Linked DNA regions of Homo sapiens. The protein of the gene in region 1 binds, or shares a complex with, the protein of each later gene. Each region holds a gene or a part of one and is shown in the gene's direction. Other genes may lie near its edges.

The links.
Region 2: the proteins of H4C15 (region 1) and CREBBP are in contact, whole or in part, in an NMR structure (PDB 2RNY), measured with the Homo sapiens proteins. Residues at the interface, in NP_001029249.1 of Homo sapiens: His19 (codon at 1,577), Arg20 (codon at 1,580), Lys21 (codon at 1,583), Val22 (codon at 1,586), Leu23 (codon at 1,589); in NP_004371.2 of Homo sapiens: Pro1110, Phe1111, Val1115, Leu1119, Leu1120, Gly1121, Ile1122, Asn1163, Ala1164, Tyr1167, Asn1168, Ser1172, Arg1173, Val1174, Phe1177.
Region 3: the proteins of H4C15 (region 1) and KMT2C are in contact, whole or in part, in a crystal structure (PDB 6MLC), measured with the Homo sapiens proteins. Residues at the interface, in NP_001029249.1 of Homo sapiens: Gly15 (codon at 1,565), Ala16 (codon at 1,568), Lys17 (codon at 1,571), Arg18 (codon at 1,574), His19 (codon at 1,577), Arg20 (codon at 1,580); in NP_733751.2 of Homo sapiens: Leu1084, Tyr1094, Arg1095, Glu1096, Glu1097, Asp1098, Leu1099, Ile1100, Leu1101, Gln1102, Trp1109, Glu1120, Val1123, Ala1127.
Region 4: the proteins of H4C15 (region 1) and ATAD2 are in contact, whole or in part, in a crystal structure (PDB 4QUU), measured with the Homo sapiens proteins. Residues at the interface, in NP_001029249.1 of Homo sapiens: Arg4 (codon at 1,532), Gly5 (codon at 1,535), Lys6 (codon at 1,538), Gly7 (codon at 1,541), Gly8 (codon at 1,544); in NP_054828.2 of Homo sapiens: Val1008, Phe1009, Val1013, Asp1020, Tyr1021, Ala1060, Glu1062, Tyr1063, Asn1064, Pro1065, Asp1066, Asp1068, Gly1070, Asp1071, Ile1074.
Region 5: the proteins of H4C15 (region 1) and SLF1 are in contact, whole or in part, in a crystal structure (PDB 8PEF), measured with the Homo sapiens proteins. Residues at the interface, in NP_001029249.1 of Homo sapiens: Ala16 (codon at 1,568), Lys17 (codon at 1,571), Arg18 (codon at 1,574), His19 (codon at 1,577), Arg20 (codon at 1,580), Lys21 (codon at 1,583), Val22 (codon at 1,586), Leu23 (codon at 1,589), Arg24 (codon at 1,592), Asp25 (codon at 1,595); in NP_115666.2 of Homo sapiens: Asn804, Leu805, Lys806, Glu808, Asp838, Asn839, Ala840, Trp842, His846, Glu847, Asn850, Tyr851, Val873, Asp874, Asp881, Asn885.
Region 6: the proteins of H4C15 (region 1) and BPTF are in contact, whole or in part, in a crystal structure (PDB 3QZS), measured with the Homo sapiens proteins. Residues at the interface, in NP_001029249.1 of Homo sapiens: Gly15 (codon at 1,565), Ala16 (codon at 1,568), Lys17 (codon at 1,571), Arg18 (codon at 1,574), His19 (codon at 1,577), Arg20 (codon at 1,580); in XP_047291553.1 of Homo sapiens: Pro2951, Phe2952, Val2956, Asp2960, Ala2961, Asp2963, Tyr2964, Val2967, Cys3003, Arg3004, Tyr3005, Tyr3006, Asn3007, Pro3008, Pro3012, Phe3013, Tyr3014.
Region 7: the proteins of H4C15 (region 1) and HAT1 are in contact, whole or in part, in a crystal structure (PDB 6VO5), measured with the Homo sapiens proteins. Residues at the interface, in NP_001029249.1 of Homo sapiens: Lys6 (codon at 1,538), Gly7 (codon at 1,541), Lys9 (codon at 1,547), Gly10 (codon at 1,550), Leu11 (codon at 1,553), Gly12 (codon at 1,556), Gly14 (codon at 1,562), Gly15 (codon at 1,565), Ala16 (codon at 1,568), Lys17 (codon at 1,571), Arg18 (codon at 1,574), His19 (codon at 1,577), Arg20 (codon at 1,580); in NP_003633.2 of Homo sapiens: Asn30, Glu54, Tyr55, His57, Gln58, Asp62, Glu64, Glu187, Thr188, Ala189, Ser190, Ile192, Asp196, Trp199, Tyr225, Arg237, Ser239, Gln240, Glu276.

The regions. Positions count from the first base shown.
Region 1 is NC_000001.11:149,860,264-149,862,653, reverse strand, and holds H4C15 (histone H4), read left to right. Parts: upstream 1-1,494; 5' UTR 1,495-1,522; coding exon 1,523-1,834; 3' UTR 1,835-1,890; downstream 1,891-2,390. UniProt on the Homo sapiens protein: Core component of nucleosome. Nucleosomes wrap and compact DNA into chromatin, limiting DNA accessibility to the cellular machineries which require DNA as a template.
Region 2 is NC_000016.10:3,734,214-3,737,713, reverse strand, and holds part of CREBBP (CREB-binding protein), read left to right. Parts: intron 1-898; coding exon 899-1,064; intron 1,065-1,510; coding exon 1,511-1,678; intron 1,679-3,500. UniProt on the Homo sapiens protein: Acetylates histones, giving a specific tag for transcriptional activation. Mediates acetylation of histone H3 at 'Lys-18' and 'Lys-27' (H3K18ac and H3K27ac, respectively).
Region 3 is NC_000007.14:152,181,004-152,184,503, reverse strand, and holds part of KMT2C (histone-lysine N-methyltransferase 2C), read left to right. Parts: intron 1-1,347; coding exon 1,348-1,530; intron 1,531-1,909; coding exon 1,910-3,500. UniProt on the Homo sapiens protein: Histone methyltransferase that catalyzes methyl group transfer from S-adenosyl-L-methionine to the epsilon-amino group of 'Lys-4' of histone H3 (H3K4).
Region 4 is NC_000008.11:123,319,350-123,323,447, reverse strand, and holds the end of ATAD2 (ATPase family AAA domain-containing protein 2), read left to right. Parts: intron 1-381; coding exon 382-510; intron 511-2,272; coding exon 2,273-2,314; 3' UTR 2,315-3,598; downstream 3,599-4,098. UniProt on the Homo sapiens protein: May be a transcriptional coactivator of the nuclear receptor ESR1 required to induce the expression of a subset of estradiol target genes, such as CCND1, MYC and E2F1.
Region 5 is NC_000005.10:94,684,669-94,688,168, forward strand, and holds part of SLF1 (SMC5-SMC6 complex localization factor protein 1), read left to right. Parts: intron 1-1,904; coding exon 1,905-2,050; intron 2,051-3,500. UniProt on the Homo sapiens protein: Plays a role in the DNA damage response (DDR) pathway by regulating postreplication repair of UV-damaged DNA and genomic stability maintenance.
Region 6 is NC_000017.11:67,940,503-67,944,002, forward strand, and holds part of BPTF (nucleosome-remodeling factor subunit BPTF), read left to right. Parts: coding exon 1-154; intron 155-3,500. UniProt on the Homo sapiens protein: Regulatory subunit of the ATP-dependent NURF-1 and NURF-5 ISWI chromatin remodeling complexes, which form ordered nucleosome arrays on chromatin and facilitate access to DNA during DNA-templated processes such as DNA replication, transcription, and repair.
Region 7 is NC_000002.12:171,928,961-171,932,460, forward strand, and holds part of HAT1 (histone acetyltransferase type B catalytic subunit), read left to right. Parts: intron 1-3,500. UniProt on the Homo sapiens protein: Histone acetyltransferase that plays a role in different biological processes including cell cycle progression, glucose metabolism, histone production or DNA damage repair. Coordinates histone production and acetylation via H4 promoter binding.

The DNA.
Region 1 (2,390 bases):
TTCGGGAGATTTTGAGTTTTGGGCTTAAAATGACTGAAGAACCACCAGGTGGATCTACGTGTCTCGAGTCCAGAAGTCTGAATACAGATTTACGATTTATGAGCACACAGAAGGTGGATCCAAGGGAGAGATTAAACAGGGCACAGAAGAGTTTTTAAAAATAATATTTTTCGGGAAAAAAACCCCAACAAAACACGATTCTTTCAGCAGAAACCAGAAGATTTTCTCATAGACTCTCCTACAGAGAGCCCTGATAAAGTAATAAACATGCTAACAGTAAGAACCCCAACCAATTTCATAGGGCAGTTTGCGGTAACTACTCCCAGTATGGAGCAGACAGTCCTCTTGCAAAACCCGATTTAGCAAACTTTGCTAGCTCCATGTGGGGCCTCCAAAGGACACAGCTGGGCACTAAATCCTGGCTGAAAACAAAGGCCGATTTAGAGGATCCGTAGAAACGGATGCACAGAATATCCCTCAGTCTTCTCTATGTAGCAGGCCCTCCATATACGCGGGTTCCCCAAGACCGAAAATATTAAACAAATGAATTTCTTTTTTAAAAAAAAGTACAACAAAAGATAGTAAAAATAAAAACAGTATAACAATTACTTACATAGCATTTACACTGGATTAGGTGTTACGAAGTAATTTAGAGACTATTTAAAGTACACGGGAGGATGTGCATAGTTATGTGCAAATACTACGCCACTTTCTATGAGAGACTTGAGCAACCTGGATTTTGGTATCGGCGGGGGCCCTGGACCAATCCCCTCTCAGTTCTACCGAGGGAGAACTGTTTTGTTTCTTCCAGCACGGCTTTGACCGACAGTGTGTTGGGATTCGCTGACGTCCATGAGAAAGCTTGGCAGCATGCTGAGACCAATTTTCCCAGGGCCAGAATTCTCCTGTGTGAGCTAAAATACAGTGGCTCGGTCCAACAAAACAGAGCCTGGAGCCAGGAATTATGGCGAACCTGCTCCCTCCCGTCCTCCCTTGGCGCACAGATCCCTGGCGCCGCCGCTCTTGAGGTCGCCTCTCGCGTGTCGACCTCATCGTCGGAACGGCGCTTCCTGAAGCTTTATATAAGCACGGCTCTGAATCCGCTCGTCGGGATTAAATCCTGCGCTGGCGCGCTCCTGCCAGTCTCTGGCCTCCATTTGCTCTTCCTGAGGCTCCCTCCAGAGACCTTTCCCTTAGCCTCAGTGCAATGCCTTCCGGGCGTCCTCAGACCAGACACAGGCCAAAGCCACTACAGAATCCGGAAGCCCCGGTTGGGATCTGAATTCTCCCGGGGACTGTGGCGTAGCGGTTAAAAAAAAAAAAGAGTGAGAGGGACCTGAGCAGAGTGGAGGAGGAGGGAGAGGAAAACAGAAAAGAAATGACGAAATGTCGAGAGGGCGGGGACAATTGAGAACGCTTCCCGCCGGCGCGCTTTCGGTTTTCAATCTGGTCCGATACTCTTGTATATCAGGGGAAGACGGTGCTCGCCTTGACAGAAGCTGTCTATCGGGCTCCAGCGGTCATGTCCGGCAGAGGAAAGGGCGGAAAAGGCTTAGGCAAAGGGGGCGCTAAGCGCCACCGCAAGGTCTTGAGAGACAACATTCAGGGCATCACCAAGCCTGCCATTCGGCGTCTAGCTCGGCGTGGCGGCGTTAAGCGGATCTCTGGCCTCATTTACGAGGAGACCCGCGGTGTGCTGAAGGTGTTCCTGGAGAATGTGATTCGGGACGCAGTCACCTACACCGAGCACGCCAAGCGCAAGACCGTCACAGCCATGGATGTGGTGTACGCGCTCAAGCGCCAGGGGCGCACCCTGTACGGCTTCGGAGGCTAGGCCGCCGCTCCAGCTTTGCACGTTTCGATCCCAAAGGCCCTTTTTAGGGCCGACCACTTGCTCATCTGAGGAGTTGGACACTTGACTGCGTAAAGTGCAACAGTAACGATGTTGGAAGGTAACTTTGGCAGTGGGGCGACAATCGGATCTGAAGTTAACGGAAAGCTACCGCGGCCCATAGCGCTCACAGCCGTAAAGACTTAAGTCGTTGACCGAAAGCGGCTTTTTCACTTACCTGGGCTTTTTTTTTTTTTTTTTTTTTTTTTAAAGCCTTTATCGGTATGAAAGGTTGAATGCTCTAGGTTTGAGCACTGCTTTCTCGGCTTGCTCTTCTGGTGCAGTATAGGCACACCTAGAGGGCCACGTCAGTCTTTGCGATCACCAAATCTGGTTCTGAGAAATAGGCACTGGCAATTTACACATGCCTTGCTGTGTAATCTCACTATATTTGCTCAGGCAAAGTGGGAGAAGCAGCCTTAGGTTTTCATTCTAGAGATGCCGGCTTTCCCACCTGATCGGCTTAGAGTTCACGATTGACTGTTTTGGGCTTCATTTC
Region 2 (3,500 bases), on another chromosome or scaffold:
GGCAGGTGGATCACCTGAGATCAGGAGTTCAAGACCAGCCTGACCAACATGGTGAAACCCTGTCTGTACTAAAAATACAAAAAATGAGCCAGGCGTGGTGGCGGGTGCCTAGCGTAATCCCAGCTCCTCAGGAGGTGGGGGCAGGAGAGCCACTCGAACCAGGGAGACAGAGGATGCGCTGAGTCGAGATCATGCCATTGCACTCCACCCTGGGCAACAACAATGAAACTCTGCCCCCCGCCCGCAAAAAAAAAAAAAGAAAAAAGAAAAAAAATGTTCCTCCTGCCCCTTGCTGTTAAACCTTCCCTGCCCCAGGCGACCACTAATCTACTTTGTCTCTCTGAATTTGTCTTTTGTGAATCCTTTGTGTAAACGGAACCCTGCAGCGTATGCTGTCTTGGGTCTGGCTTCCTTCTCTAGCCCTTGGTTTCTGTACTCTAGACCTGCCCCATTCCCTTCTGAAACTTGAAAAGGATAGGGGCATTTGATCAAAGTGTCTTGAACAGAATGAATGAGGTTTATGTTGACATTGACCCTTGGAGAAAAATAGTCAACCGAACTGCCTTTACAGTGCACAGGAGGAAGGGGATGGCATTGCCTTGATGAGCCATCATATTCCCTGGTTCTTTAATGAGGCCTCAGGTTTCTTTTGCAGCCTCGGCCCTGCCCTGTGTGTGCACCCCAAGGGAGAAGTGTTGCAGGGCTAATTTGCAGGCTTGCATTTGCTCAGGATAAAGTTCGAGCCTTGCCCCCACCACACCCAGCTTTGTGGGCATTCATTCTCTCTCTCTGGTTACTTCTGTCCTGGCTTTAGTCCTTGCTCCTCTGCTATAACTCCTTAAAGGCAGGGCCGATTTCACTGGCACGTTCATCTGACGTGTGTGCGTGGGTCCTGCAGGTATGTGACAGGGCACATCTGGGCCTGTCCTCCAAGTGAAGGAGATGATTACATCTTCCATTGCCACCCACCTGATCAAAAAATACCCAAGCCAAAACGACTGCAGGAGTGGTACAAAAAGATGCTGGACAAGGCGTTTGCAGAGCGGATCATCCATGACTACAAGGTACCCGGCGCTGAAGGAAGGTGGTGGCTTTTGTCACAACTGAGGGGAGGATATTTGTGTGCCTTTTTCTTGCATTCGCATACTTGTTAATTACCTTCACTTATGAGGATTAGAAAGCAGAAAAATAAAAGCCTAAAGTGAGAACTTAGAAGCATTTTCTTCAGCTGATTGAGGCTTTCCCCTGGCCGTCTGAGAGCAGCACAGTTGGAGCTGTTTCCATCAGTGGGCATTGGGGCCTGTGCATCACTGTTGCACACATAGGGGCTCCAGCACTGTGGTGGGGGGTGCACATGTGTGGGGGTCTGCTGCACTGTGGTGGGGGGGCACACATGCATGGGACTCTGCCACACCATGGTGAGGGGCACGCTTGCGTGGGGGTCTGTCGCACCATGGTGGGGGGCACGCGTGCATGGCCCTCATCTCACTGTTGTGCTTTGCCCACTCAGGATATTTTCAAACAAGCAACTGAAGACAGGCTCACCAGTGCCAAGGAACTGCCCTATTTTGAAGGTGATTTCTGGCCCAATGTGTTAGAAGAGAGCATTAAGGAACTAGAACAAGAAGAAGAGGAGAGGAAAAAGGAAGAGAGCACTGCAGCCAGTGAAACCACTGAGGTACAGACCCTTCTCTGAGCTCCATTGCCCACGTGTCCCGCTGGAGCTGCAGGGTGGCAGGCTGGGAGGCGCGTGTCGACTGTTAGGTCCTTCCTGTGGTGGTGTCTCCGTTCACACATGCACGTCGACACCACCTGCAGCACAGGGCGTTGGTGGGCAGCAGTGTGGGCTCTGCACTCTCTGCACAGTGGATGCTCTGGGGAGCTGGGGGTCCACTTAGACTCGGAGAGGGAAGAGAGGAAGACAGAAAATGGGACATGGGGCAGTCAGGACACAACCCGCTGATGTAAAAAGTGAGTCGAGGAGGCACAGGGTTGCCAGGCCTTATTCCGTGTTTGGTGGCCACTCTGCACATGATGCTCATGCCCTGCTGCCCTCTCTCCTTGGCGCTGCCCCTGAGTGCCAGGCAGTGCAGACTGAGCCAAACAAAACCCCATCCCTGGCCAGGCGCGGTGGCTCACACCTGTAACCCCGCACTTTGGGAGGCCGAGGCAGGCGGATCACAAGGTCAGGAAAGGGAGACCAGCCTGGCTAACACAGTGAAACCCCATCTCTACTAAAAATACAAAAATTTAGCCGGTTGTGGGAGGGGGCACCTGTAATCCCAGCTACGAGGGAGGTTGAGGCAGGAGAATCGCTTGAACCCGGGAGGCGGAGGTTGCAGTGAGCCTAGATTGCGCCGTTGCACTCCAGCCCAGGAGACAGTGCGAGACTCCGTTTCAGAACAAACAAAACCCCATCTCCGCCCCCAAGGGAGTGGCTGTGTCCTGGTAGGATGTGAAACAAAAAGAACCCAGACCCAAGCATGGTGTGCTCTGAGCGTGGCAGAGCTCTGAAGGGGAAGGAGCCTTGGGGAGGTGGCGTGTGGGCCAGACCCGCCCACCACAGGAAGGTGCTGGAAGAGGACCCGCCAGGCGGTGGGAGGAGGCGCGCTGTGTGCGGGTTTGTGCGGCTGTCTGGGGAAGAGATGATGGTGGCGTGGGTGTGGGCTGTAGCTGTAGGTGCAGGGAGAGCGATGACGAACGTTGAAGGCTGCAGCCCCAGAACTTGGGACAGGCGATTGTGACCAGTGAGGAAAAGCGGTGAATGGAGGTGGCTCTTGCGTGGGCTGCTGCCATGGGTGAGGCAGCCGGGAGCCGGCTGGGGACATACTGCCACTCTGGTGCCTGTCCCATATGAGAGCACGTCTGTGAGGTGGGTGCCGGATGGGCTGTAGGCGGAGCGTGGGGCCTGGGCCGCTTCCGCCACACACACTCGTGCTCACTGCACAGGTGGTTGAGAGGCAGCCACCTGCTGGACGGCGCCCCAGAGTGTCATTCGCAGGACAGAGGAGGCGCGGGCAGGGGGTGGCGTGGGTTTACGCCCTAGGTGGCTCCTAAGCAGAGCTCCTGGCCTGTTGTCTTCGGACTTGCTCCCGCTGGAGTGTAGCTGGTCTCACTGGTGTCTGGTGAGTTAATGCTTGAGTTCCATCTCCTAAGGGTGACACGGGAGGTTACCGCGTCCGAGACAGGCTTTGCGCAGCTGAGTTCCACCCCAGGAGGGGGCACCTGCCTGTGGCATGGCAGCAGTGGGGTTGTCCAGAAGACAGGCCTGATAGGGGCTCCTGCTGGGGCAGCCTTCCCTGTGCACCGGGGACATGCATGTGTTAGGAGGCGGGATGCTGAGGTGTCGGCATGTAGACCTGCTGTCCCTTGTGTGTTTGGTTCATGGACAACAATGGGCAGGGACATGCCTTCGTCAGCAACACCCCAGGAGCTCGCTCTGGGGGTCAGCCTTAGTGAGGGCTGGTGCGTGGGGTGGAGCACTGCTTTGCTATTAGCTC
Region 3 (3,500 bases), on another chromosome or scaffold:
TGATCTTTGCCATGAACTATTAGGTAATTTTATAAGATTCGCAGTTCATATGGTAAATTATTTTCTCCCAAAGAGCCAAATTAAGATTGTCAGCTGGAACCAAATCCTTGCTTTCGTTTTAAAGCATATTAAATCTGTATTATTGTTGGAAAATATATATAGTTATTTTCCAGCTTGTTCCCCAGTGCACATATTTTCAGTTACAGTGATTATTTTGGATAGAGCATATATGTGTGTATATGCTCTATCACATATATATATATAGATGTGTTAATATGCTGTGTTTTATTTTGACTTGAATTAGGTAATGACAGAATTTTTAAATTTTTAAGTGATTTCTTTAATGATACGTTTCAAATATCCAGATTTTTTTTTTTTTAAGACTGATTGGATATTTTTCCTTTTTTCTAAATTTTTTTTTTTTTTTTTTTGAGATGGAGCTTCACAGTTGTTGCCCAGGCTGGAGTGCAATGGTGCGATCTCGGCTCACTGCAACCTCTGCCTTCCAGATTCAAGCGATTCTCCTGCCCCAGCCTCCCAAGTAGCTGGGATTACAGGCATGTGCCACCATGCCTGGCTGATTTTTCTTTTTCTTTTTCTTTTTTTTGAGACAGAGTTTTGCTCTTGTTGCCCAGGCTGGAGTGCAATGGCGCAATCTTGGCTCACCACAACCTCCGCCTCCTGAGTTCAAGTGATTCTCCTGCCTCAGCCTCCCGAGTAGCTGGGATTACAGGCATGTGCCACCACATCTGGCTAATTTTGTATTTTTAGTAGAGATGGGGTGTCTCCATGTTGGTCAGGCTGGTGTCGAACTCCCGACCTCAGGTGATCCACCCGCCTCAGCCTCCCAAAGTACTGGGATTACAGGTGTGAGCCACTGCGCCTGGCCTAATTTTGTATTTTTAGTAGAGGTGGGGTTTCACCATGTTGGTCAGGCTGATCTCAAACACCTGACGTCAGGTGATCCACCCGCCTTGGCCTCCCGAAGTGCTGGGATTACGAGCATGAGCCACCATGCCTGGCCCCAGCCCCTTCTTTCTAAATTGAAGGAGACATAATTTCTAAGGATATGTTAAGAAAACTAGGAGCTAAAATATTAAATCACACCTAGGATCTTTAAGCTTAATTCAAATACATAGAAATATATCCTCAACTGATAGGTACTATGCACTGTAAAGAGAGAAGATGAGTTAGTGTCCAGATCCTTTTTTGGGAGGTGCCGTAAGTATTTCAGCTATTTTACCTGACTTTTTTTTCTTTTATTTGAGAAAGTTCATGATAGTTTTATTTTATTCCTTAAAACATTTAACATAATCTGGGAAATTTTTTTCTCTTCTTTTGTCAAAGCAAAAAGCCAGAGATAACAGAGCTGCTTTACGCATTAATAAAGTACAGATGTCAAATGATTCCATGAAAAGGCAGCAACAGCAAGATAGCATTGATCCCAGCTCTCGTATTGATTCGGAGCTTTTTAAAGATCCTTTAAAGCAAAGAGAATCAGAACATGAACAGGAATGGAAATTTAGACAGGTATGGAATTTTTGGATAATCTACTTTTTGAAGTTGCATTTTTGTTTTGAGAAGGGAGGTCTTTGCATTATTATTTTAGAATATAGTTCTTAGACCATGAAAATTTGATTTAGGATAGACTTGTTTCTCTTTTCAGTAAAATATATTTAAATTGATTTGAGAAATTTATTGAAATATTATAAACAATATACTGCCCTAGGCACAAATGGAACATACCATGATGAGTAATTTCTCTTCTTCAGGAATTCATAATCTAATATGGGAGCAATCTGGTAGCGCTGACATCAAACAAATTAACTTTCTGTTGCTTTTTCCCCCCATGATGGTAGTTTTCTTCCTTAACCTAAATATGATTGCTTTTTCTTTTCTATTTTAATAGCAAATGCGTCAGAAAAGTAAGCAGCAAGCTAAAATTGAAGCCACACAGAAACTTGAACAGGTGAAAAATGAGCAGCAGCAGCAGCAACAACAGCAATTTGGTTCTCAGCATCTTCTGGTGCAGTCTGGTTCAGATACACCAAGTAGTGGGATACAGAGTCCCTTGACACCTCAGCCTGGCAATGGAAATATGTCTCCTGCACAGTCATTCCATAAAGAACTGTTTACAAAACAGCCACCCAGTACCCCTACGTCTACATCTTCAGATGATGTGTTTGTAAAGCCACAAGCTCCACCTCCTCCTCCAGCCCCATCCCGGATTCCCATCCAGGATAGTCTTTCTCAGGCTCAGACTTCTCAGCCACCCTCACCGCAAGTGTTTTCACCTGGGTCCTCTAACTCACGACCACCATCTCCAATGGATCCATATGCAAAAATGGTTGGTACCCCTCGACCACCTCCTGTGGGCCATAGTTTTTCCAGAAGAAATTCTGCTGCACCAGTGGAAAACTGTACACCTTTATCATCGGTATCTAGGCCCCTTCAAATGAATGAGACAACAGCAAATAGGCCATCCCCTGTCAGAGATTTATGTTCTTCTTCCACGACAAATAATGACCCCTATGCAAAACCTCCAGACACACCTAGGCCTGTGATGACAGATCAATTTCCCAAATCCTTGGGCCTATCCCGGTCTCCTGTAGTTTCAGAACAAACTGCAAAAGGCCCTATAGCAGCTGGAACCAGTGATCACTTTACTAAACCATCTCCTAGGGCAGATGTGTTTCAAAGACAAAGGATACCTGACTCATATGCACGACCCTTGTTGACACCTGCACCTCTTGATAGTGGTCCTGGACCTTTTAAGACTCCAATGCAACCTCCTCCATCCTCTCAGGATCCTTATGGATCAGTGTCACAGGCATCAAGGCGATTGTCTGTTGACCCTTATGAAAGGCCTGCTTTGACACCAAGACCTATAGATAATTTTTCTCATAATCAGTCAAATGATCCATATAGTCAGCCTCCCCTTACCCCACATCCAGCAGTGAATGAATCTTTTGCCCATCCTTCAAGGGCTTTTTCCCAGCCTGGAACCATATCAAGGCCAACATCTCAGGACCCATACTCCCAACCCCCAGGAACTCCACGACCTGTTGTAGATTCTTATTCCCAATCTTCAGGAACAGCTAGGTCCAATACAGACCCTTACTCTCAACCTCCTGGAACTCCCCGGCCTACTACTGTTGACCCATATAGTCAGCAGCCCCAAACCCCAAGACCATCTACACAAACTGACTTGTTTGTTACACCTGTAACAAATCAGAGGCATTCTGATCCATATGCTCATCCTCCTGGAACACCAAGACCTGGAATTTCTGTCCCTTACTCTCAGCCACCAGCAACACCAAGGCCAAGGATTTCAGAGGGTTTTACTAGGTCCTCAATGACAAGACCAGTCCTCATGCCAAATCAGGATCCTTTCCTGCAAGCAGCACAAAACCGAGGACCAGCTTTACCTGGCCCGTTGGTAAGGCCACCTGATACATGTTCCCAGACACCTAGGCCCCCTGGACCTGGTCTTTCAGACA
Region 4 (4,098 bases), on another chromosome or scaffold:
TTTAGTTTCACATAATAAAATTAGTTAAAATGTACTTATACTATCATAAAATCCCCTGCAAAAAAACTTTGCTTTTCTCCTGTTAATCTAAATTGAGGTTAGTTTTTAATTTGTTTGTAGATGCTTATGGCTAGACTTAGAATTGGCAATCCCCTCAGCTCTAGTTTTTAGAATATGAGTTACTCAAGGTCAAGGCCAGGATTATAGCTAGACTTAAGTACATTTAAATGTCAGAGCCACTGCCAGAGGCTGCCCTGTGTCATCAGATGGCTTGGTCTACCCTCTGTCAGGCTTGTAATAATTGCCCAAACCTTCTAAATTAAGTATCTTGTCTGAGGAAGTTTCTCTCTCACACATATTGACACTCATATTTTCTTTTAGAATCTTTTGAAGACTGTTGTTAAAAAAAGTCAAAACTACAACATATTTCAGTTGGAAAATTTGTATGCAGTAATCAGCCAATGTATTTATCGGCATCGCAAGGACCATGATAAAACATCACTTATTCAGGTAAACTCTTGAGTGGAAACTTTTTACAAATGCTCTTGTGGTCACATTAATATATCACTTATGTAGGATTGTTGAGGCTTTATTTAATCTGTGTAAGAAACTGATTGTAGGAACTTAAAGACCATCTTTCTATTTCCAAAGTTGATGTCCCATTCCATAAAGATCATTTTTAATATGTGGATTATGAATTATTTCTAAATGCAAGTGAGTTTAGTATTTTTCCAATCTATAACTTAATTAGTTTGTTTGTTTATTTATTTATTTATTTAGAGACAGGGTCTCTGTCGCCCAGGCTGGAGTGCAGTGGTGCGATCTCAACTCACTCACTGCAGCCTCCACCTCCAAGGTTCAAGCGATCCTCCTGCCTCAGCCTCCCAAGTAGCTGGGACCACAGGCACCTGCCATCATGCCCAGCTAATTTTTGTGTTTTTTGTAGAGATGAGGTTTCACTATGTTGCCCACGCCGATCTTGAGCTCCTGAGCTCAAGCCATCCAGCCACTTCAGCCTCCCAAAGTACTGGAATTACAAACGTGAGCCACTGCACCCAGCCAATAGTTTGTGTCTTTAATAAATAGTGGAACATAAACTATGAATACCCCTTTTGTGTGTATGTATTAATGAAGAATAATAGCTTCTTTTAAGACTTGTCAGCCAGGCACAGTGGCTCATGCCTGTAATCCCAGCACTTGGGGAAGCCAAGGCGGGTGGATTGCTTGAGCCCAGGAGTTCAAGACTAGCCTGGCCAACATGGTGAAACCCCATGTCTACTAAAACAACAAAAACTAGCCAGATGTGGTGGTGTGCACCCATAGTCCTAGCTACTCGGGTGGCTGAGGCATGAGAATCACTTGAACCTGGGAGGCAGAGGTTGCAGTGAGCCAAGATCAAGCTACTGCACTCCAGCCTGGCTGACAGAGTAAGACTCTGTATGACAAAAAAAAAAAAAAAAGACTTATGTACTTAATCTTCCTTTATAGTAGGTATTATAGTGTTAATTAGAGCATTAATACTTATTTTTGAGACAGGATCTTTCTCTGTGTGCAGTGGCAAGAACATAGCTCACTATAACCTGGAACTCCTGAGCTCAGGCAATCCTGCCTCAGCTTCTCAAGTAACTGAGATTATAGGCAAGCACCACCACACTGGGCTAATTTTTAAATTTTTTGTAGAGATGGAGGTTTTGCTATGTTGCCTAGGATGGTCCCAAATTCGTAGCTTCAAGCGGTCCTCCCGCCTCAGCCTCCCAAAGTGCTGGCATTAACAGGCAGGAGCCACCATGCCTGGCCTTATTATTATTTTTAATAACAGATCATTTCACTAGAGAGTGCTAAATTTTAAAAAAAGATATTACTTACATATGCATATTATTGGTAACTACAAAATATAAAAATGATAACCATTAGTATATATATAGTATTTAGTATACCTACTAAAGTATACTATGTAGTATATATATAATATTGATACCTACAAAGTGTAAAATACTAAACTCTAACTACATCAGTACCTTGATTAATACTATTTGAATTTAACATAAGATGAATGCACCCCAGACTCATTTCAAAGTTATTTAAATAATGAAGTCCTACAGGTAAAATCTATGTGGCAGTCTTAAATACTGAACTGAATGTTTATTTTCACTATCAAATATATACCTGAATATTAATATTCTTAAGGTTGTTTACTGAAAAAGTAATGAAATGTTTCTTTAGCTTATTCCATATTGAAACTTACTATTTGCTCTTCCTCCCCTTTATCTAGAAAATGGAGCAAGAGGTAGAAAACTTCAGTTGTTCCAGATGATGATGTCATGGTATCGAGTATTCTTTATATTCAGTTCCTATTTAAGTCATTTTTGTCATGTCCGCCTAATTGATGTAGTATGAAACCCTGCATCTTTAAGGAAAAGATTAAAATAGTAAAATAAAAGTATTTAAACTTTCCTGATATTTATGTACATATTAAGATAAATGTCATGTGTAAGATAACTGATAAATATTGGAACTTTGCTAGAACAAGACCCTGTAGTAATAGTAATAATAGTTGAAGTTTGGCCAACTCTTAATAAAGTTATTTTGGTAACTAATGTTTTATGGCACTTAAGAATAATTAGCAGCGTTAAATTTTGTTTGTATTAAGCACTTTTAATTTTATCCTTCCTAAAAATAGTTTATTGTATCTGACAAGAAACTTACTTAACCATTGTGTCCTTCCCATCTTTTTTGTCATCTTTGTTTTCTTCAAATGCCCTCCTCCCATCTGCCTTGAGATTCCCTCGTCTTCACTTAAAAGCCAGAGTGCAAGTCATGATTTGCGGGAGGGCTCTTGAACCACTTCTGGCTGCACCACAATTCTGTACTTGAGTATCACAGTCATTGTTTTTGAGACAAACATTTTTATAATTCTAATTTGGGTTAATAAAGATTTTAAATATTTCTTGGTTTACTTTTGTAATTATATACACAACAAATGTATTAATAACTACCTTGTTAAACACCTTTTAATAGCACAAGGTTTTTATATTTGCAAGCTGTTGATATCTTTCTAAAACTGTTTAGGTTATAGTCTATTGATACTTTTTATATACAATTTTATAAATATAAATATTATAATTTTATATTAATGGTACCAAAAATACATTTCTTAAGGTTAAAAGCATGCACTTCCATGCATACTTGCTTTTGGGGAGAGTGGGGAGAAGACATTCTAATAATCAGTTTGTGAAATAGCTTCTGTTGGAAACCTTTTGAGGGGAATAAGGAATGGTCATCTAAAATGAGAGATTCTGGATTTTAATGCAGTTCAAAGTTGAGCTGTATTTTTGTTGTTGATTTATCTGGATTTTTTTTAAAGCCTTCTAAAACCCAGTGAATTCAATACCTTAATTAGTACATACTATCTTATGTAATGCATAAAGCAATGCCAGTCACTGAGAACATTTAAATATATTTATATTCCTGGAGATACACATTCTCATTTTTGTTGGTTTATTATAAATTATTCTTCTAGATGCATCTTTTATAACTAGGATTTCATTTTGTGTGTATAGCTTATGTAATAAATTTTAAAGGTGAAAACTCTCTTAAATTTGTTTCTATTTCTTAAGTATTTTAAAACATAGCAAAGATAATTCTGTGCAAAAGAAGTGTAAAGTCTGTTCTTTCATATATTACTGTGAAAATTTAAAGTGCTGTTGACACTGGAATGTTTTTATATGGTACATGTATTTTAGGTACAACGACTAAAGTGCTTCCTGAAATGTCTTCTACAGATTTTAGAAGTGTTATGTCTACATTCCTATGTAGAGTTTGAAAACCATGCTGAAATTGCAGTGTTGAATGTTATCTCCCATTTGTTGCTCAAAAGTGCAGTTAACGCAAGAAAAACAAAAGGAACTCAGAAAGGAAAAAGTGAAATTCTCTTTATTTACAAATGCCATGATTTTATATGTAGGAAATCCTTTTTTGAGACAGAGTCTTGCTCTGTCGCCTAGGCTGGAGTGCAATGGCATGATCTCGGCTCACCACAACCTCTTCCTCCCAGGTTCAAGCGATTCTCCCGCCTCAGCCTCTTGAGTAGTTGGGACC
Region 5 (3,500 bases), on another chromosome or scaffold:
GCCTGGGCAATAGAGCGAGACTCTGTCTCAAAAAAAAAAAAAAAAAAAAAAAAAAGTATCTCTGTAGAGGCCATATTGGAAGGGATTATCTAAATTCAGTGATAATATATCTGTTTGGGGTTAGTTGTATCTGGTTAACATCTGACCTGAAGCCATTTGCCCAAAGGTTTAAACACTCCTTATGACAAGCTGCCACAAGGCAAGGGCATCAGATCTCTTTAGTCAAGGCAAGTTTCTCAGCCTGTATACTGATTATGTTTTGGGCTGGATAATTATTTGTTGTTGGGGCTGTCCTGTGTATTGCAGCGTCCTGGGCCTTTGCCCACTAGATGCCAATAGCATCCCTTTCCCCAATGTGGCAACCAGAAATTACCAAATGTTACCTGAGAGCAAATCCTCTTTTACTTCTCCCATCCACTATTGAAAATCAGAGTCAAGGGTCAAGGACTACAAGACACTAGAGCCCCAGCCTTTTATGAAGGCATCTGAGCAGGACATTGACTGGGTGTCTGCATTCTCTTCACGCTGAAAGAATTCCACCCCTGAATAGAGAGGCCAGCTTTTATGCCTTATACTGCTATTAAGTTTATCATTGTCTGATTTTAAAACTATATTTTAACTTAATGCTTATAATTTTAATTCTTCTCTTCTGCTGTTTATTATGTTTACTTTGCTAACTGTATTGACTTATTCTTTATTCTTCCAGTATTTATAGTTAATCTCCCTTATTGTATAATATCACAACTTTTTTATATTGTTTGTAATTTTAGCTTTTTTGATATCCTCTTGGTTGGTCTTATTTATTCTTTCATTATCATTTTGTTGCATTTTCATTATGTTACATAGAGAATATTAATAGTTTATAATATTAAATAGATCACATGGGAAATAGTCACTCCTTTATCACTTTGAATTCATGGGTATATTTATGCATTTTCTTCTTATTGAAGTTCTTGAGGTTTTGTAGAAGATATTTGAGGCTCTTGGTGTTTTCTTGTTTTTTGTTTCATCATTTAAAATTATCCACCATCTGGCACGCACCTGTAGTCCCAGCTACTTGGGAGGCTGAGGCAGGAGAATCGCTTGAACCTGGGAGGCGGAGGTTGCAGTGAGCCGAGATCGCACCACTGCACTCCAGCCTGGCAACAGAGCGAGACTCCGTCTCAAAAAAAAAAAAAAAATTATCCACCATCCCCCATAGTAGAGTGGGTGCAAACTTCTGAGGAAGTCGTTATACATGCTCGTTTCATGTTTTTCTTCTTTATACATGCTCCTGTTTCATGTTTTTCTTTATACATGCTCGTTTCATGTTTTTCTTCTTTACCTTGTGCCTTTCTTGTTTTTCTTCTTTACCTTGTGCGTTTCTTCTTGTTTCATGTTTTTCTTCTTTACCTTGTGCCTTTCCTCCTTTTCTGCAGTGATAAGATTCATGGGTGTTGTCATAGGAAGCAGTCTACTTTCTTCCTGTCAACTCAGTACTGATCATTGCAAATTAAATACTTGTATGTTCATTTAAAAACTAATTACTGGTTTTCCAAAGAAGCATCCCTATTGTGGGAAGAGATCTTTAATGGTAGTTGGAAAGTATAGTGATAAATAAAATCCCCTCTATATATTCATATATTACCTAATCTGTATATATGTAATTTCAAGACTTGTATCTGAAATAATCAAACCTAATGATTGTTTTTTTCAAGTGTGAGAACATGTGCCATTAAATATTTTCTCTTAAAAGTCAAGGAATAGTGATATGACCTATTTTTTGTGGATTAAAATCATGTGGATGAATCTTATAGGTGTAAGAGCTCTCATTTGACAGAATAAACTTCACTAAGGAAATAGCCTATGGAAAAAATTGTATAGGATACAGCAATAACTATATTAACTTACCTTATGTTCTCCAGACTTTTCTTCACAGGAATTAGAGATTTTCATTTGCTCCTTTTCCTCCTCCTGGCTTCAAATGTTTGTTGCAGAGGCAGTCTTTAAAAAGTTGTGTCTACAGAGCTCTGGCAGTGTTTCTTCTGAGCCACTCTCTCTTCAGAAAATGGTAAGTACCTCTCTATTCTGGTTCTTTACATTTTCAAGAAGTGAGTTCACAAACTCAATTTTATTTATTTAGTTATTTATTTATTTTGAGATGGAGGCTTGCTCTGTCGCCCAGGCTGGAGTGCAGTGGCGCAATCGCGGCTCACTGTAAGCTCCGCCTCCCGGGTGCATGGCATTCTCCTGCCTCAGCCTCCCGAGTAGCTGGGCTACAGGCGCCCACCACCATACCCAGCTAATTTTTTTGTATTTTTAGTAGAGACGGGGTCTCGATCTCCTGACCTCGTGATCTGCCTGCCTCGGCCTCCCAAAGTGCTGGGATTACAGGCGTGAGCCACCACGCCTGGCCCACAAACTCAATTTTAAAAAATTCTTAGTTATTTCAAGTAAGTAGGCAGAATATATTAATTCATAAATATTTCAATTCTGTATAAAAGCTAGTATATTTCTGTCTCTAATTAGAGTAATGAAAGCCAGCGGCCGTGCTGAGTGCCTGTAGGTGAGTGCCTGCAGGTGAGTGCCTGTAGTTCCAGCTACTCAGGAGACTGAGGCGGGAGGATTGCTTAATCCCCAGAATTTGAAGCTGTAGTGCATTATGGTTGCACTTGTGCATAGCCACTGCATTCCATCCTGGACAACATAGTGAGACCCCTTCTCCAGGGGCAGTGGGGGGAAGGTAATCACCAAATAGAAATTTTAAGGCCGAGCATGATGGCCCCTGCCTATAATTCTAACACTTTTGGAAGCTGAGGCAGGAGGATCCCTTGAGCCCAGGAGTTCGAGACCAGCCTGGGCAACATAGCAATACTCTGTCTCTAAAAAAAAGTTAAATTAGCTGGGCATGGTGGCACATGCCTGTGGTCCCAGCTACTCGGGAGGCTGAGGTGGGAGGATCCTTAATCCCAGGAGGTCGAGGCAGCAGTGACCTGTGATAACCACTGTACTGTAGCCTAGGTGGCACACTAAGACCCTGTCTCAACAACAACAACAACAACAACAACAACAAAGAAAGAAAAGAAAGGAAAAAGAAATTTTAATTACTTTTGAGCGTAGCCAAGGGTTGATCATAGAAAACTAAAAAATCCTTGTTTCCTAATAAAATTCCTACATAGGTTATTATTTTGGAAAGAACTAGATCCAACAAAATTCTAAATGGTATTTAAAAAGCAAAATATTATGCATATAAGCTACATTTGATTTAAAGTTTTCCAGTTTTATTTTGGCTATCTTTAGATATTAATATTTAATAATAATTATTTATTATTATTAATAAGGCAATATTAATTTAGATATGTAGATATTAATATCTATCTTTAGATATTAATATCTTTAGATATTAGTCAAATTCTGTTTTGCAACAATCCTTTAAGGATGTTTTTATTCCTTATTTTGTTTTCTGTTGAAGAAAGACTTGTTTTCTGTTCAAGGCATTATCAGAATGGAAATTACAAAAT
Region 6 (3,500 bases), on another chromosome or scaffold:
CCCTAACACGGTTTCCTCAACACCTGGGCAGAAAAGCTTAACTTCAGCAACGTCCACTTCAAATATACAGTCTTCAGCCTCACAACCCCCTCGCCCCCAACAAGGACAAGTGAAGCTCACCATGGCTCAACTTACTCAGTTAACACAGGGCCACGTAAGTAACATAAGCTTTATTTTAACTTTAGAGGTGATCTTATTTATTCTTGCGGTAAGTTTAAAAACATGAACTTATTTTGATACGTTTTTAAATGTGCTGATTTGAAGAAATGGTTGCTTCCTGGAGTCAAGCAGAAATACCTCTTAGACAGGATATAATAAACCCCAACTACTAGAGTAATCTTTAGACAGTGAGCTAAAACAGTGAGACAGATAACCCTTTTAAACACCAAAATTTTATTAGTTGGCTAATCTCCATGAGACAAATAAAATTTGAGTACATTAAGCTGCTTCCTTGCAAGACTCGATATTGTTAGCAAGTCTTCTAATATTGATTAATAAATTGAATGCAGCTCCCATCAAAATCCCAAGAGGTTTTGTTTTTAGTGAAACTTCACAAGCTGATACTGAAAGTTTATATGGAGGTACAAAGTATTAAGAATATCTGTACCTTTGAAGAACAGGATTATTTGCCCTATATATGATAACTTGATATCAAAACTTAGTATAGGCTGGGCATGGTGGCTTGCGCCTGTAATCCCAGCACTTTGGGAGGCCAGGGCGGGTGGATTGCTTGAGGTCAGGAGTCTGAGACCAGCCTGACCAACATGGTGAAATTCCATCTCTGCTAAAAGTACAAACAAATTAGCTGGGCGTGGTGGCATGCGCTTGTAATCACAGCTACTCAGGAGGCTGAGGAAGGAGAATTGCTTGAACCTGGGAGGCGGAGGTTGTAGTGAGCTGAGATTGCACCACTGCATTCCAGCCTGGGTGACAAAGCAAGACTTCATCTAAAAAAAACCAAAAAACTTAGTATATAATACTTCACTAATTAATATAGTGAGGTACAGACATAAGGAGAGGCAGATAGACCAACAGAACAGTAGAGAGTGCAGAACATGAACCCCATGTATGTGGACACTTGTTATATGACAAAGGTGACATTGCAGATCATTGAGGAAGAGATGACTTTTCAGTAAATGGTGCCAGGACAATTGAATATACATGGGAAACTGTGAAATTGGACCATTATTACCTCACTCTACATAAACTCAATTCCAGGAGGATGAAAGTCCTAACTGTGAAAGGTAAAACTATAATACCTTTAGAAGATAGAAGAATATCTTCATAGCTTTCCTAAACAGATAGAAAATGCTAACCATAAATGAAAAGATTTATAAATTCAACTACTTTAAAAATAAGAGTAAGAACCTCTGTTCATCAAACTCACTACAGAGAGAGTGAAGAAAATGAGAAAAGAACCAACCAAGGACTATTACATATCCAGAATATATAAAGAATTACTACAAATCAAGAAAGAAAAAAATCCAGATAGATCAATAGGAAAAAAGACAAACAGGCAAGGTGCGGTGGCTCACACCTGTAATCCCAGCACTTTGGGGGGCCAAGGTTTTGGGAGGCCAAGCCAGGTGGATCACTTGAGGTCAGGAGTTTCAGACCAGCCTGGCCAACATGGGGAAACCCCGTTTCTACTAAAAATACAAAAATTAGTCAGGCGTGGTGGTGTACGCCTGTAATCCCAGCTGCTTGGGAGGCTGAGGCAGGAGAATTGCTTGAACCCAAGAAGCAGAGGTTGCAGCGAGCCAAGATATACCACTGCACTCCAACCTAGGCAACAGACTCCGTCTCAAAAAAAAGAAAAACAAAAAAAAAAGGACAAACCAACATTATGAGGAAAGAAGAAATCTAAATGTCCCAAATTCCAAAAAACTGCTGAACTTTATTAATAATGAGAGAAGTACATATTAAAACCATATGCTTAAGAGATTGGTACAAATTTAAATGTCCAACAAAACCAAGAGTTAGCAAAGACATAGAGCAGAAAGAATTCTCATGCACAGCTGGTGGGCCTATCAGTCGGTTCAGCCATTTTGGAAACTTCCTGGACATGGTCTGGTAAAGTCAAAGCTGTGTATGCCCAAGGTCCCAGTATACCTTCTAGGTATATCCCTAGAGAAGTTGTTGGCCATGTGAGCACCAGAATACATGGCATAAATATTGGTAGCAGCATTGTTCATAAGAATCAAAAACTAAGAACAACTCAGGTGTCTATCAAAATCAGTTAGCTAAGTAAATTGTAGTATATTCCTACAGCAATAAAAATGAATAGACTTCAGCCACACAGAACTATGCAGATGATTCTCACAAATATATAATGGTAAGCTAAAGAAGCAAGTAGCTGCCAAAAAAAATACATGTTATAATTTCATTTGTATAAGATTCAGAAATAGGCAAAACTAAGCTATTTTGTGTAGGGATACAGGGCTGCTGCATTGCCTGCCTGGAGGGGGCACTATTCCCATTGTATTCTTTGTGAATATTGCTCCTGAGTTTGTGAACCTCAGTGGCCTTATATATACCTAAGATACATACCGAAGTAGTAATGAAATACAGTGTTATCATCAAAGTGAGGATAGTGCTTACCTCTAGGGGAGAGGGAGGGAATTGAAATCCGGGTGAGTCATATGGGGACTTCTAGGACACTGGCAATGGTGACCACAGTGGCGGTTTTATAGATGTTTACTTTATAATTTTTAAATTATACTTGGTGTTTTGTGCATTTTGTGCATAAAAAATGTATTTTAGAAAAGCAAGAGTAAATAAGTTTTGAGGGATTCACATGTATATGGAGCTTACTTAGTACATGGACTTTGCGCCATCAGTTTTGGTCATTGGGAGTTTAGGGGATGGTTTTTACTTTTGCTTTCCAGTTCTCCAGCATGTTCCTGGTATTCAGGGTTTCTAGTTGAATTACAGTTCTGGACAGAAGAGAGAGCGCCTAGAGAATTTTAAATTTCTGGACCCCTTTTTGGTAACTGCTCAGACCTTAGTGATCCTCCTTACTTGGTGTTTGCATTACATATCTAAAACCCTAAGCTTTTTACAGTTTAGCACACACACACCCCATAGGTAATTTGGCACGTATTGAAAGACAAAATTCAGGAGATCTAGGTTCCTTCTTTTATCTCACCTTTAAGTTGGCCAGGGTACTTGACCTTTCTAACCTGAGTTTCTTAGTTGGGAATCAGAAGAATATTTTCTCTGCCTACCCCATAAAGTCACAAGTCCATTGTGAGAATCAAATGAGGCAGTATCTATGAAGATGCTTTTGAAATTGTAAAATATGAATATAAGATTATTTAAAATCAGAATTTTGTGGGGACTTTAGTTATTCAATACCTTTATTTTATAGATTGGGAAACTTGGATCTGGAGGAACAGTGTTGCTTGTGGACAGATAACTGGCTGACCATTGGGGGAGCTTGAACTGGAACTCTGGATTGTTGATGTTTTTCCTACTAAGCAACATAAATATTCTTACTT
Region 7 (3,500 bases), on another chromosome or scaffold:
GGATTTGCTGGGTCAATAGGGTATTTGTATGTTTAACTTTATGGGATACTTGGCCAGACTGACTTCCAAAGTACTTTTATACTCACATCAACAGTGTATTAGAATTTTCGTTATTCCATATCCTCACCAACATTTTATGTTGTCAGTTTTTAAAGTTTTAGGCATTCTACTGGGTTTATAGTAGTATTTCTTTGTTAATAGTACTTCATAGTGGTTGTAAAGATTAAATAGGTTTTAATTGTCTTTTCCCTCATAACTAATGCTATTAAGGATTGTTTTTTTAATGTGGTTATCGACTATCTCCTTTTGGACTCATGTATTCACATCTTTTGCCCATTTTAAAATTAGGTTATTTGTCTTTTTGTTATTAGTTGTAGGTGTTATTTACCTACATATTCTGGATGAGTCCTTTATGCAGATTACATGTTTTGTGCACATTTTTCTCTCAGTTTGTGGTTTGCCTGTTCATATTCTCAACTTTTTTTGTATAACTGGAAGTTTTTAGTTTTAATCATGTCCAGTTTATTAATTTTAAAAATTTCTATTAGTGTTTTCTGGTTCATGCCTAATATCTTTGTCTACCCCAAGGAGATCATGAAGCTCTCCTAATGTTTTCTTCTGGAAGGTTTTTAGTTTTAGCTTATTAAAATTATGTCCATGATCCATCTCATGTTATTTTTCATGTCCAATATGAGGAAAGGGATTAAGGTTTGTTGTTCCATGTGGATATCCACTTGTTTCAGTATAATTTGTGTGAATGCCTTGGTGCGTTTTTAACAAAAAAATATTGAACTTACACGTGTGGATCTACATCTGGACTTTTCTCATTCATTGTCTGTTTTTCTGTCAATATCGTACTGTCTGGATTAGTGTAACTTTCTATTGATTCCTGGTAGTGTGAGTCCCACATCTTTATTTTTTAAAGATTGTTTCGATTATTCTTGACCTTATTTCTGTATACATTTTGGAATCAGGTGGTTAATTTCTATTTAAAAAGTTCTGACTAATCTTAAGATTACATTGAATCTAAAATTGAATGTGGGGAGAATTGCTATCTTAATAACATTGAGCCTTCCAGTATATGAACATGATGTATTTCTGTATTCTAGAAATGTTTCAGGTTTTCAGTCTTGCATGTATTTTGTTAAATTTATCTGAGTAAATCTACATCTTTTGATTTTTGATGCTCTTAAAAATGGTATACTTTTTTATTTATTTATTTTTGTATGTGTGACATGTTCTCACTTTGTCACCGAGGATGGAGTGCAGTAGCGTGATCTCCACTCACTGCAACCTCTGCCTCCGAGCTCAAGTGATCCTCTTACCACAGCTTCCCGAGTAGCTGGGACTCCGCATACACCACCATGCCTGGCTAATTTTTGTATTTTTTGTAGAGACAGGGTTTCGCCTTGTTACCCAGACTGGTCTTGAACTTCTGGGTTCGAGTGATCTGCCCACCTAGGCCTCCCAAAGTGCTATTACAGATGTGAGCCACTGTGCCTGACCTAAAAATGATATACTTTAAACATTTTCTCTTCCAATTGCTTGTTTTATGTGTGTGCATGTGCATATGCATGGACACACAATGGCACAGTTTGTGTAATTGTTTTGTATTCTGCAACCTTGCTAAATTCACTTATTATTGTAGTTTTTTGTATTCTGGGCTTTTTCTGAGAGAGTGGCTCACTCCATTGCCAAGGCTGGAGTAGAGTGGCGTGATTGTGGCTCACTATAGCCTTGACTTCCCAGGCTCAAGCGAACCTCCCACCTCAGCCTCCTGAATAGCTGGGACTATAGGTGCGTGCCACCATGCTTGGCAAAATTTTTTTTTTTTTCTAGGGACAGGGCCTCACTATATTGCCCATGCTGGTCTTGAACTCCTGGGCTCAAGCAATCCTCTTGCCTCAGCTTCCCAAAGTGCTAGGGTTGCAGACATAAGCCACCACACCCAGCTATAGGATTTTTTTTTTTAGATGTAGATTATTTCAGATTTCCTGCACACAAACATTACCTGTTAATGAAGAAAGTCACAGTTTTTCTTTGCCTTATACAGTTGTCCATTGGTATCTTCAGGGATTTGGTTCCACGATCCCCCGTGAATACCAAAATCTGCCGATGATCCGGTCCATTATACAAAATGCCATAGTGTGGCTGGGCATGGTGGCTCACATCTGTAATCTAGCACTTTGGGAGGTTGAGGCAGGCAGATTGCTTGAGCCCAGGAGTTTGAGACCAGCCTGAGCAACATGGCAGAACCCCATCTCTACAAAAAATACAAGAATTAGCCAGGCATGATGGTGTGCATCTGTAGTTGCTACTCAGGAGGCTGAGGTGGGAGGATCTGCCTGAGCCCAAGAGTTCTAGGCTGCAGTGAGCTGTGATTGTGCCACTGCACTCCAGTGTGAGTGACAGAGTGAGACCCTGTCTTGATAGATAGATAGCCATATAGCCGGGCATGGTGGCTCACGCCTGTAATACCAGCACTTTGGGAGGCTGAGGCAAGAGTTCGAGAAGACAAGCCTGGTCAACATGGTGAAATTCCGTCTCTACTAAAAATACAAAAATTAGCTGGGCGTGATGGCACACACCTGTAATCCCAGCTACTTGGGAGGCTGAGGCAGGAGAATTGCTTGAGCCCAGGAGGTGGAGGTTGCAGTGAGCCGAGATTGTGCCACTGCACTCCAGCCTGGGCGACAAAGCAAGACTGTGTCTCGGGGGGGAAAAACAGCCATATAGTACAGTCAGCTCTTTGTATCTGCAGATTCTGTGTTTGAGGATTCAGCCAATCTCATGTTGATCCGTAATTGGTTGAATCAGTGGATGTGGAACCTGCATATGTGGAGAGCCACTTGTGTTTCATTTTCTTGCCTTACTGCACTGGCCAGAACCTCTATTACAATGTCAAATGGAAGTGATAGAGTAGACATCCTTGCCTTATTCCCAATTGAAGAAGGAAAATTTTGAGCCTTTCACCATTCACTATGATGTTAGCTGTAGGTTTTTCATATGTGCCCTTTATCAGGTTGAGGAAGTTTCCTTCTATTCCTAGTTTGGTGAGAGTTTTTATTATGAAAGTGTTACCTTCTAATGCTTTTTCTTTATCAAGATAATCATAAGATTTTTCTCCTTTAATTCTGATAATGTGGTGAATTACATTGATGAGGTTTTAAGTGTTAAATTAGCCTTGCATGCCAGTATATTATCCTTTTTCTGCTTTGCTAGATTTGACTTGGCAATGTTTTGTTAAGACTCTTTGTTCATGACAGGTAATGGTTTCTTTTTTCATACGTCTTTGCTTGATTTTGGTATCAAGGTTTCCTGGCCTCATAAAATGAGTTGGGAACTGTTTCTTCTCTATCTTCTGGAAGAATTTGTATAAGACTGCATTATTCCTTTAAATGTTCAGTAGCATTCACCAGTGAAGTTTTATGTGCCTTGAGTTTTCTTTGTTGGAAGGTTTTTAACTATACATCTAATAAATAGATTTAATACTGTTCTGA